2 separate regions of the Homo sapiens genome follow, and region 2 is linked to region 1. Evidence: fine-mapped expression QTL. Tissue or cell type: whole blood. Region 1 holds a variant in brackets; the other region holds the start of a gene. All regions are shown on one strand. Distances are between the middles of the regions.

Evidence for each region. PIP is the estimated chance that this variant, and not a neighbour inherited with it, causes the effect.
Region 2: it holds the start of AKR1E2, and the variant in region 1 is fine-mapped to the expression of AKR1E2 in whole blood (INTERVAL, PIP 0.91).

The regions. Positions count from the first base shown.
Region 1 is chr10:4,874,751-4,879,904 of GRCh38, forward strand. It overlaps the pseudogene AKR1C6P. Among named protein-coding and RNA genes, the nearest start is that of AKR1E2, 51 kb to the left of the region's middle. The variant G/A (reference allele first, on the strand shown) is at 2,903.
Region 2 is chr10:4,823,582-4,828,735 of GRCh38, forward strand. AKR1E2 (aldo-keto reductase family 1 member E2) reads left to right here and starts at 2,626. Exons shown (of 10, transcript NM_001040177.3): 1 at 2,626-2,782. The coding sequence starts at 2,744. RefSeq lists a silencer at 3,053-3,132.

The sequences.
Region 1 (5,154 bases):
GACAACAAAGATAAAACGGTTTTGCCAGTGGTTGAGTAGGAGTTTCAGAAAGCACAGTGAAAACATGTTGAGGTGGTGTACACAGAGCTATTTGGGAACCAGGAATTTTAGGCTCCTGTAGTGACTGAACTAACAGTGACAAAGACCATGTTAGCCTCAAGGGAGTTAAGGGGCTGGTTGGCAGGGGAGGATGGGAGTCTGTCCAGGAGCTACTGGATTGCTTGCTCTTCCCGTGTTTGGAGATGTTTACATACATATATGTACTAAATGTCACTGAACAGAAAAAAAAATAGCTTACAGATTTTTCTCTACAGCCTTCTGAGAATCATAGAGTCTAAAAGTTTGAAGGGCCATTAAAAGTCTATCTTTGGAAATAACTTTTTTCCTGCCATTGGATTTTCATTATCACCTCCATTTGCTTGATACTCAGCCTGTTCCCTTTTTCCTTCTTGATTTTCCGAACCTGCTTACTCTTTACTATTGAAAACCCCCCCAGACCTGAGCAAAGTTCTGAACATTGTTCAGAAACCACAGCTGAAGATCCACCCCTGTGGCCAGCCTTGCAAGAGAGCTGATTCAGGTTCAAAACCTGAATCAGAGGGGGTGGGCTTTGTGATGGAAATTAGAGAAACATGAGAAATGTTGAAATTTAGAATCAACATGAGAAATGTTGAAATATAGAATCAACAGGACTAGGTGGTTATTTAGATGTAGGGGATGAGGTTTGTGCCATAATGGTGATGTGTGTAGTATTACCATGAAGAGTATATATAGAGAAAACATTGAAGGCTTTAATTTTAAGTGTATTAAGTTTGAACTGTGGGAATAAATAGAACTATCTCTAGGGAATTTTAATTTAAAAGAAAATCAGTGGGCTACAAGAGACCAAGAAAAATGTCTAGGTTAGAGATAGAAACCATGGAATTATTAGCATGTAGATTGGAGGGAAGCCTAGTGATGAGGGACACACAGAGGCAGTGTGGAGCCAGGAGAGCCCAGTCTTAAACGGGGAGCTTCCGTCTCTATTGAGTTCTGCTCACACTCTTGTCTGGGCAGAGCTATGAGCCTTGGAGAAAAAAAAATGTCTGATATGAAGTCTGAAGAAAAAATGTTTTCCAACAACTTTCCTAAGCAACAAACCCTGCCTTCTGTGGGCTGAAATCAATGGAATTCCCCCACTGTCCTGCTCCCTAGTGTCAACAACGAAACAAGCTACTTACATAGACATTTACAAATGGCATATATTCTTGTTCAAGCCATCTGTGGTTTTCATGTCCTCTGGTGTCAGCTAGAAGTCAAAAACCTGTCAGAAACGTGAGAAGATCAATTTAATATCCTTGAGGCAATTGCTGTTCCTCTTCTCCCCTCTCCACAAACAGACAAATCCATGTAGGACTTTGTGTAGGTTTTATGAGTGAGTTTTCATGGACCAAGGATTCATTCAGTGGCATGTCATGGGAATTTGTCCATTTATAAAGTTGAGATTGGCATGGTTAATCTTCCCTCAGATACTTTTATTGGGGAGCCATCATGATAGCAAAGAAATCCTAGAGAATTTTAAGCCCAAACCTCACGTGATCTAATTCCTTTATTTTACAGCTATAGAAATCAAGGGATGACTTACCCAGCGCCATACTATAGGGGAAAAACCCGGATTAGGACCCTCTCCTGACCTTCTCTTTAGTGTCCTTTCCAACCATCACACTCTCCCTTGCAGCAAGGGGAGACAAAGCAATTAAATATGGTGCTTATATGCTTATATGCATAGAATGTAAAAGGAGATAAGCTTTGCCCAAATATACCTTGAGAGCTTTGCAAAAACTCAGATACCGTGGGGAAATGATGTGCCTCTGTCAATCCCCTGCTGCCACCACCATGCCCTGTACCTGGAAGTTTTCTTTGATTCTCTTCTCATTGAAGCTCTTCACCAGGACCACCACCCCGCGCTGCAGCTGGTAGCACAAGGCAACCTGGGCTGGAGTTCGCCTGGGCTTTTCAGCAATGGCATTGAGTATTGGATCCTCCTGGAGAACTGGGTTTCCTTTTTTCACCCTGAGAGGAGAGGCAGAGGTGCTGCAAGTCTGAGGCTGAATATCCATTTTACTTGCGGGCTGCTTATTTTGGCCAGGGATGCTAATCCTCCAGAACCTTCCTCATTACCTTCTGGCTGTCTCAATATCTGTTTTGCATCTTTTGTTATAACCAAAGAAGGACAAAGGAATGGAAGGTGGCAGTTCTATTTAGTTCTTATAATGTAGGTCTGGGTTAGGTAAAAGGTTTACAGATGAATTTATTCCTGCTGTCTATTTTTAATTTTGCCAGCTGATTGAGAGATTACTTCGGAAGGTACAGTATCTATGATTAAAATAACTTTATAGGCCAGTCACCGTGGCTTACACCTCTAATCCCAGCACTTTGGGAGGCCAAGGTGGGAGGATCACTTGAGCCCAGGAATTCAAGACTGGCTTGGGTAACGTAGTGAGACCCTGTCTCTACAAAAATGAAAATAAACAATTAGCCAGGCATGGTGGTGCACTCCTGTAGTCCCAGCTACTTAGGAGGTCTAGGAGGGAAGATCCTGACTTGAGCCTGGAAGGTCAAGCCTGCAACAAGCTGTGATTGTGCCCCTGCACTCCAGCCTGGATGACAGAATGAGACCCCCACCTAAAAAAAATAAACAAAATAACTTTATGAAGATGATTACCAGTCTTTGTCTGAGTCAGACCCCAAGGCAGAATATGCAGTCATGACAATGTCCTTGGACTTACAGTACTCCAGGAGTTTGCTTTGGTTGAGGTAAGGGTGATATTCCACCTGCAGAATGCCAAGCAGGAGAATTAGGTTACAGAACCACCAACACCAAGCTTACCAGGGACATGCAGTGCTGCATTGCATGGTATCA[G/A]ACATCTTTTAGAATACCAGCAACACAGGCCAAGCCATGATTGTCATCCACAGCTGTATGCATGAAGCTCCCAAGGGCTTTACTTGGGATGACAGCCCATGGAGGGCATAGCAGTATTGATTAAATAATTAACTCAGTGCTCTTAGATGGCAGGTTGTGCACAAGGCCAAAAGAGAATTTCAGTCTTCCAGACTGAAAACCATGGTGACATCTTTGGTTCTTGCTCATTTATTGTTGACGTATAGCAAGCAGCAATTTCTGCCTTTCTTAGTTATTTAATCTCAGTATTCTTTATTTTTAAGGAGTATTCCCATTTTGTTCATTGCTGCAACCCCTGATAGCCAATAAATCATCCCTCAACATTTTTTGGCTTTATGAATGTATAATTGTTATATGAAAACATGCACACACTTAATGGATACATCTGGATGGATTTGGGCATGTGCATATACCTGTGATACCATCACTGCAAACGATGCATTAAACATGCCCATCACCTCCAAACATTTTCTTATGTCCTTTTGTGTGTGGTTTTGGTTTTAGTTTTTGGATTTTTTTTTTTTTGCAAGAACACTTGACATGAGATCAACTATCTTAAACATATTTTAAAGTATGCATACTGTTAATAACAGGTATAAGGGGTTAATATCTAAACTATGTAAAAATCTACAATGCAATAGCAAAAAAACAAACAAATAACCCAGTTGAAAAATGGGGGAAAAAAAACTTGCATAAGCATTTCTCCAAAGAAGTCATCACTCCAATTTGAAACAGTTTTTCATCAGGTTATTCCTTGGCTGCAGGAATGAGAATGTTTTCCTCTTTCCTAGCACAGGACATTGTGACATCTTTGTTTGCTCCTTACCTCCCCCAACAAATGGCCCCACTCAGACTTATGGTGCCCATACACTTCCCGAAGCTCCAATCTTGTCCCATGGGGAAAGGGATTTGGAAAGGCTTCTGGCCCTTTTATCATCAAGGGGAAATAAATTGCTACTTGTTTTCAGTCAGAAAAAAAGTTACTGGTGTTATTACATTTACACATTACTAGTGAGAGAGGTTTCTGTGCTGCAGAAGGTATTTAGTGGCACTATAATCCCACGTTTCCATTTTTCTCACTTCCATGCACATGGAAAGTCAGAAACCAGGATCCATCACTGAATTTTAACCATTTTTTTCTGCTCCCTTGTCTGGGTGACATGTGAGCCAAGACCATTGCCTTCACCATGGGATGGGTAGTCTAGGGACCAGCTCAGCACTAGACAAAAGGGGCAAGTGTACTTTAAAAAATACAATTAGCAGACAATTTTTAGAGCAGTTTTAAGTTAAGAGAAACATTGATAGGAAAGCACAGAGTTCACCATATCACCTCTCCCACCCACCCTTACCCCTACTCTCTCCTCTTATTTAAGTTGTATTAGTGTGAAACATTTGCTACAATTGATGAACCAATATTGATACATTATCACAGGGTTCACTCTCCATTGTACATTCTATGGGTTTTGACAAATGTATGTCATGTGTATTAGTCAGGGTTCTCTAGAGGGACAGAACTCATAGGATAGATGTATATGTAAGGGGAACTTATTAAGGAGCATTGACTCACACGATCACAAGGTGAAGTCCCACAATAGGCCGTCTGCAAGCTGAGAAGCAAGGAAGCCAGTCTGAGTCCCAAAAACTCAAAAGTAGGGAAGCCGATAGTGCAGCCTTCAGTCTGTGGCCGAAGGCCTGAGAACCCCTGACAACCCACTGGTATAGGTCCAAGAGTCCCAAAGCTGAAGAACCTGGAGTCTGATGTTTGACACCAGGAAGCATCCAGCACATGAGAAGGATGGAGGCCAGAAGACTCAGCACATTCTAGTCCTTCCATTTTTCTCTGCCTGCTTTTGTTCTGGGCATGCTGGCAGCTGATTAGATGGTGCCCACTCAGATTGAGGGGGGGTCTGCCTTTCCCAGTCCATTGACTCAAGTGTTAATCTCCCTTGGCAACACCCTCACAGACACACCCAGAAACAATACTTTGCATCCTATAATCCAGTCAGGTTGACACTCAATATTAACCATTGCAATATGTATCCACCACTACTAGATCATACAATATGGTTTCACTGCCCTAAAACCTCTGTATTTTACCTATTCATTCCTCCTTCCCTCTCCCTGAGTCCCTGGAATCCACTGATCTTTTATTTTGAGCAGTTTTAGGTTTACAGAAAAAAATGAGAAAAAAAATGCAGAGTTCTCATATATAC
Region 2 (5,154 bases), 51 kb before region 1:
CTCATCAAAATCTTACTAAATTATTTTGTGGATAAACTGAATCCATAGTTCATATGAAGAAGCAAAAGACACAGAATAGATAACTCAATATTGAAGGAAAAGAACAAAGTTAGAGGACTCACACTACCTGACCTCAAGACTTACAATAAATCTACTGCAGTAATCAAGACAGTGTGGTATTTATGAAACAGGCAAATGGATCAATGGAACAAAATAGCACAGAAATAGATCACCACAAATATAATAAGCTGATGTTTGACAAAGGAGCAAAGGCAATACACTGGAGAACTTTCAGTCTTTTCAACAAATGATGTTGGACATCCACATGCAAAAAAATAAATCCAGACACAGATCTCACACTCTTCATTAAAATTAACTCAAAGTGGATCGAAGGCCTAAATGTAAAACACAACACTATGAAACTTCTAGAAAATAAGAGAAAATCTAGATGATCTTGGGTTTAGTGATTTTTTTTATTTTTATTTTTTATATTGATTACTGTGTTCCAGGATATTCTAATTTACTAATTTTTATTTTAATTTTTTTCTGTCTAGTCTCTGATTTTTTAATTTTAATTTTTATTTCAATTGTTTTGGGGCGACAAGTAGTGTTTGGTTGCATGGAAAAGTTATTTAGTGGTGATTTCTGATATTCTGGTGCACCCATCACCAGAGTAGTGTACATTGTGCCCAATGTGTAGTCTTTTATCTCTCACTCCCCTCCCAGCCTTCCCCCTGAGTCCCCGAAGTCCATTATATAATTCTTATGTCTTTGCAATGACTTTTAAAATACAACATCAAAGGGATGAGCCATGAAAGAAATAATTGATAAGCTCACTTCGTTAAAATAAAAATTTTTTTATTTTGCTAAAGACAATGTCAAGGAAATGAAAAGACAAGTTACAGACAGACTGGGAGAAAATATTTACAAAGACACATCTAATAAAGGACTCTTATCCAAAATACACAAAGAACTCTTAAAATCCAACAATAAGAAAATGAATGACCCAAATAAAAAATGGGCAAAAGACCTGAAAACACACCTTATCAAAGATATACAGATAGCAAAGAAGCAGAGTAAAAGATGCTCAACGTCATAGACTTATGGAATTTCTGTTAAAACAATGAAATAGCATGATACACGATTGCAGTGCAGTAGAGCTTCCCCCAGGAATACTGTTCCCAGACTTGTGCAGGGCTGGTTCCCTCACTCTTTGCCTTTCTGTTTGCAGCATAAATGCCACTTCATTGAGGTGTTGAGGATTCCCTCACTCTGTCCCTTCCGCCTCTCACCACAAGCACCTGCTTTATTTTACTATAGCACCTGCTCTTTTTTTTTCTCATGCATTTGCTTTTATGCTCTGTCCATTCATTCCTACAGATGGTGAGCTCCTGAGGGCAAGGCCCATGCAGGTCATTTTCAGCACTGCACCCTGGCCTAACTTGCCCCGTGCACAGGTGAGTGCTCCAGGCACAGTTTCTGAATGAATAAATGAGAGTATCGAAGATCCCCCTTCCCACCTGTGAGGAGCTCACATTGAGGAGATGGATGCTCACAGGAGATGCAAGTTGGGTGGGAGGCAGGGGGACACCCAGAGTGACCCTGGGAGTTTCTCTGGCTGCAGCCGCCCCATTGAGCAGAATGGGCAGCGCCTCCCCTGATGGCCAGCACTGAAGACCCAGGCAAGGAACCTAGAAACAAAGCCCTCATCTGGGTGTGGGTGTCCTCAAGGCAGTAGGACTCCCAGGGCTGAGGGGGGCAATGAAGGGGGAGCTGTAAGCTCCAGGAGAGATAAGAGGGGCGTCGGAAGGCTCCCTTGACCCCTCTTTCCCTCCACTGGCCCTGGGGGAGCCCAGTCCACTCATAAGGGGGGTGTCCAGTCCACCCCATCCACTTCCAAACGGGGGCCCGAGGCTGCAAGCAAGGACGCTCCCCTCTACATGCAGGGCTCGGCCTCCCCTGCACCACCCAGGACCCCCGCTGTCCTGCAAGCCCCAGCCGCTCTGGGCCAGGACCCAGGGAGTGGAAGGCATTTTCCAAGGGCACAGTGGCTCCCTGACGGGGAACCAAGGCCAGGCACGCTTCTCCCAGACTGGGGGCCTCGGGGCACCTGAGAATGGCCATCCTTGGTACAAGAGAGCGGGGACCCACTCCCGCGCACCCTGTGCCCCAGGGGACGCAGGACTCTGCACCCTGACCCTAGAGCTTGCCCTAGGATGGCCCGGCCATGGCGAGGCCCTGGAACGGTGAAGACTCTCTGCCCATCAACCTAGCACCTCTGCCCTACCCTCAGTCGCATATGCACCCGGTGCGAGGGAGAAGGCAACCAGGAGGTCACACCTAAGGTGGGGGCGTGAGCGGCAATGCCAGCCGATTGTAAAACCTTCCCTGCTCCTGCGTGGCTCTGCAAGCCAATCGAAAATTCCGTCGTCTATGCCGCCAGCCAATCAGGATGTCCAGAGCGCGGTGCTTCCAGCCATTTGGGACTCCAGCTGGCTCTGCGCCTCCAGCCAATCGGGGTGCCCGTCCTTAATACAACCAGCCAGTCAGTGCCCGGCGCGCGACACCAGCAGCCAGTCAGGAAGCCCTGCGTTCATGCTTCCAGCCATTGTCGGAGTGTCAGCCGTCACAAGGCACTTCCAGCCAGTCGCAACGGCGGGTCGCCAGCGCCGCAGTAGCTCGCGCGGTGCCTGTCGGTAGTCGCGTGCGGGGCGGCGGGGCGGCGGGGCGGCCGGCGGCGGCCATGGGAGATATCCCAGCCGTGGGCCTCAGCTCCTGGAAGGTGACGCGGTCGCGGGCAGGGAGGCGCGCCTGACCTAGGGGAGCGCGGGACTTGGGGGCGCCCGATGGGACCCAGGCCGGGGCTGGGGAGAAGTGCGGCGGCCTCCCCTCCGCCTGGCCGACGCCCGGGAAAGGCGCTGCTGAGGTGGCCGCCCACCGCCCACAAGCAGCCCGGCCCGGCCTTTCCTAAAACGGAGTCGGTGCTGCCCGCCGAGGCGCTCTCTGGGAGAAGCGGGAACCTCGGCAGCCAAGCCTCAGACTCTGGGGCTGCGGCCGCGGCGTTGGGCGGGGCTGCTCTGTGGAGAGGCGGAGCCCTTGAAGTTACTCAGAACTGGAGCGGGGATGCCGAGGGGAGGCCTTGGCGGCGCTGGACTCGGCCGGAACAGGGAACCTCGAAGCCTCCTCTCCAGCAAAGAGAGAAAGAAAAGTTGGGGCCGGGCGTGGGGTGCGGGCTTGTAATCCCAGCACTTTGGGAGGCCGAGGCAGTAGGATCGCCTGAGCTCAGGAGTTCAAGACCAGCCAGGTCAACATGGCGAAACCCTGTTTCTACAAAAAATGAACAAATCAGCTGGGCTTGGGGGTGCGCGCCTGTGGTCCCAGCTACTCAGGAGGCTGAGGTGGGAGGATCACTGGAGACCAGGAAGTCGATGCTGCAGTGAGCTTTGATGGCGCCACTGCACTCCAGCCTTGGGGACAGAGCCAGACCTTGCTGGAAAAAAAAAAAAAAAAAAGAAAAAAGGAAAATTGGAATTGCTGATTAGGCTTTAAAAGAAACTTTGGGATCTCATGTTGTTCCCTGTTTAGAAGCAACCTGCCCTGATGCCTGAGACATATAATCGCTCTGTGCATTTATGGGGTGCAGCGTAATGTTTTGAGCCGTGTATACAATTGCAATGTGGTTAAATCAAGCTAATTAACATATCTATCACCTCTCTCAGTTATTATTGTTTGTGGTAAGATGTTTGAAATGTCTTGTTATTTTGAAATACACATGTGTAGTAAATTATTGTTGACTGTTGGCATCCTAGTGCGCAGTAAGTCTTAAAAGCTGTGTCTCCTGTGTGTTTGAAACTTTGTACCCTTTGATCAGCAACTCCCCATTCCCTCCTTCCTCACCTCCCCCAGCCCCCAGCGTCTTATAACCACCATTCTATTCTACGACCTTTCTCTGCTTTGAACTTCACAATTCCTGCCAGTGATTTGAGACAGCACTGACTAAAAAGCGTTTAAAATTTGATCTTTAAAAAAAAAAAGCTAAACTTAGTTGTTGATAAAAGCTATAAGAAGTCATATAGGAAGTTAGTTACTGAAGGAGTCAGAATGTTCAAGGCCTGCTCATGAAAATATTATTTAAATTATTTCTCTTACCTGCTTACCAACTCTTAGAGGCTAGGAGTGTCGTTTTGTTCATATTGGTTCTCAGCATCTAGTGAAGGACGTGCATCTGTCAGCCCTTCATTCAGTAAGCACTCGATGGATTAAACTGTTGAGTCTCTTGCTTCCCTTTATTTCTGCAACAATTTGGTGCAGGAGTCCAGACTTTCGTGCACACAGGATAAGGAAAAATTAGTGAAAACTGTGCTTAACAGGTCAAAATATTCTATTTATTTTTCTTGGACTGCAGGTGCATCAAATTGGATTAATCATAATCACTCATCACTGGTCTATGCAAAGGCTTATTTTTACTCGTCTATTTTTAATAGTGAATAAACATCACAGACCTATCCGTTATCTGTTGCCCCAGAAATGCTGCATCAATGGCCAAACACCAGACCTCAGTGGTGTACAGCAGCAAGTGTATTCCTCCCACACGGGAGGTCAGGAGAGCAGCTCTGTGGACCTTGGCTGGGCTCAGTTGGGATGGTTGGGGCTACTCCACTTGGCTCCGCACATCTCCTGTCCTCGTGCGGTTAGTTAGGGAGTGTTCTCAAGATGATGGCTGAAGCACAAGAGAGCAAGGGGAGCGGTGAGATGTCTGGAGACCTCAGCCTGGGCTCTTCATTATTAGGGGCCACTTGATCCATCTGTGTGCCTGATCGGTGCTGTCTTAATTACTACAGTTCCTTGATAAGCGCCCATACCTAGTAGGGCAGGTCACCTCTCCCTGCTGTTGTAGATTTACAGTGTACAATTTGATGAGTTTTGACAGATGCATGTACCTGGGTCCTGGCTTTTTATTTTGGCACCTTACTCTCCACTGTAAGTTTTAGAACTAGCTTAGAAGGTTCCATGAGAAACTTTATTGGGGTTTTGATTGGAACTACATTAAATCTGTAGACCAGCTTGGAGATAATTGACACCTTTGTAATGTTAAATCTTAACTTTTCTACAAGCATGGTATTCTTCTCTGTTAATAAATTGTCCTGAATATGG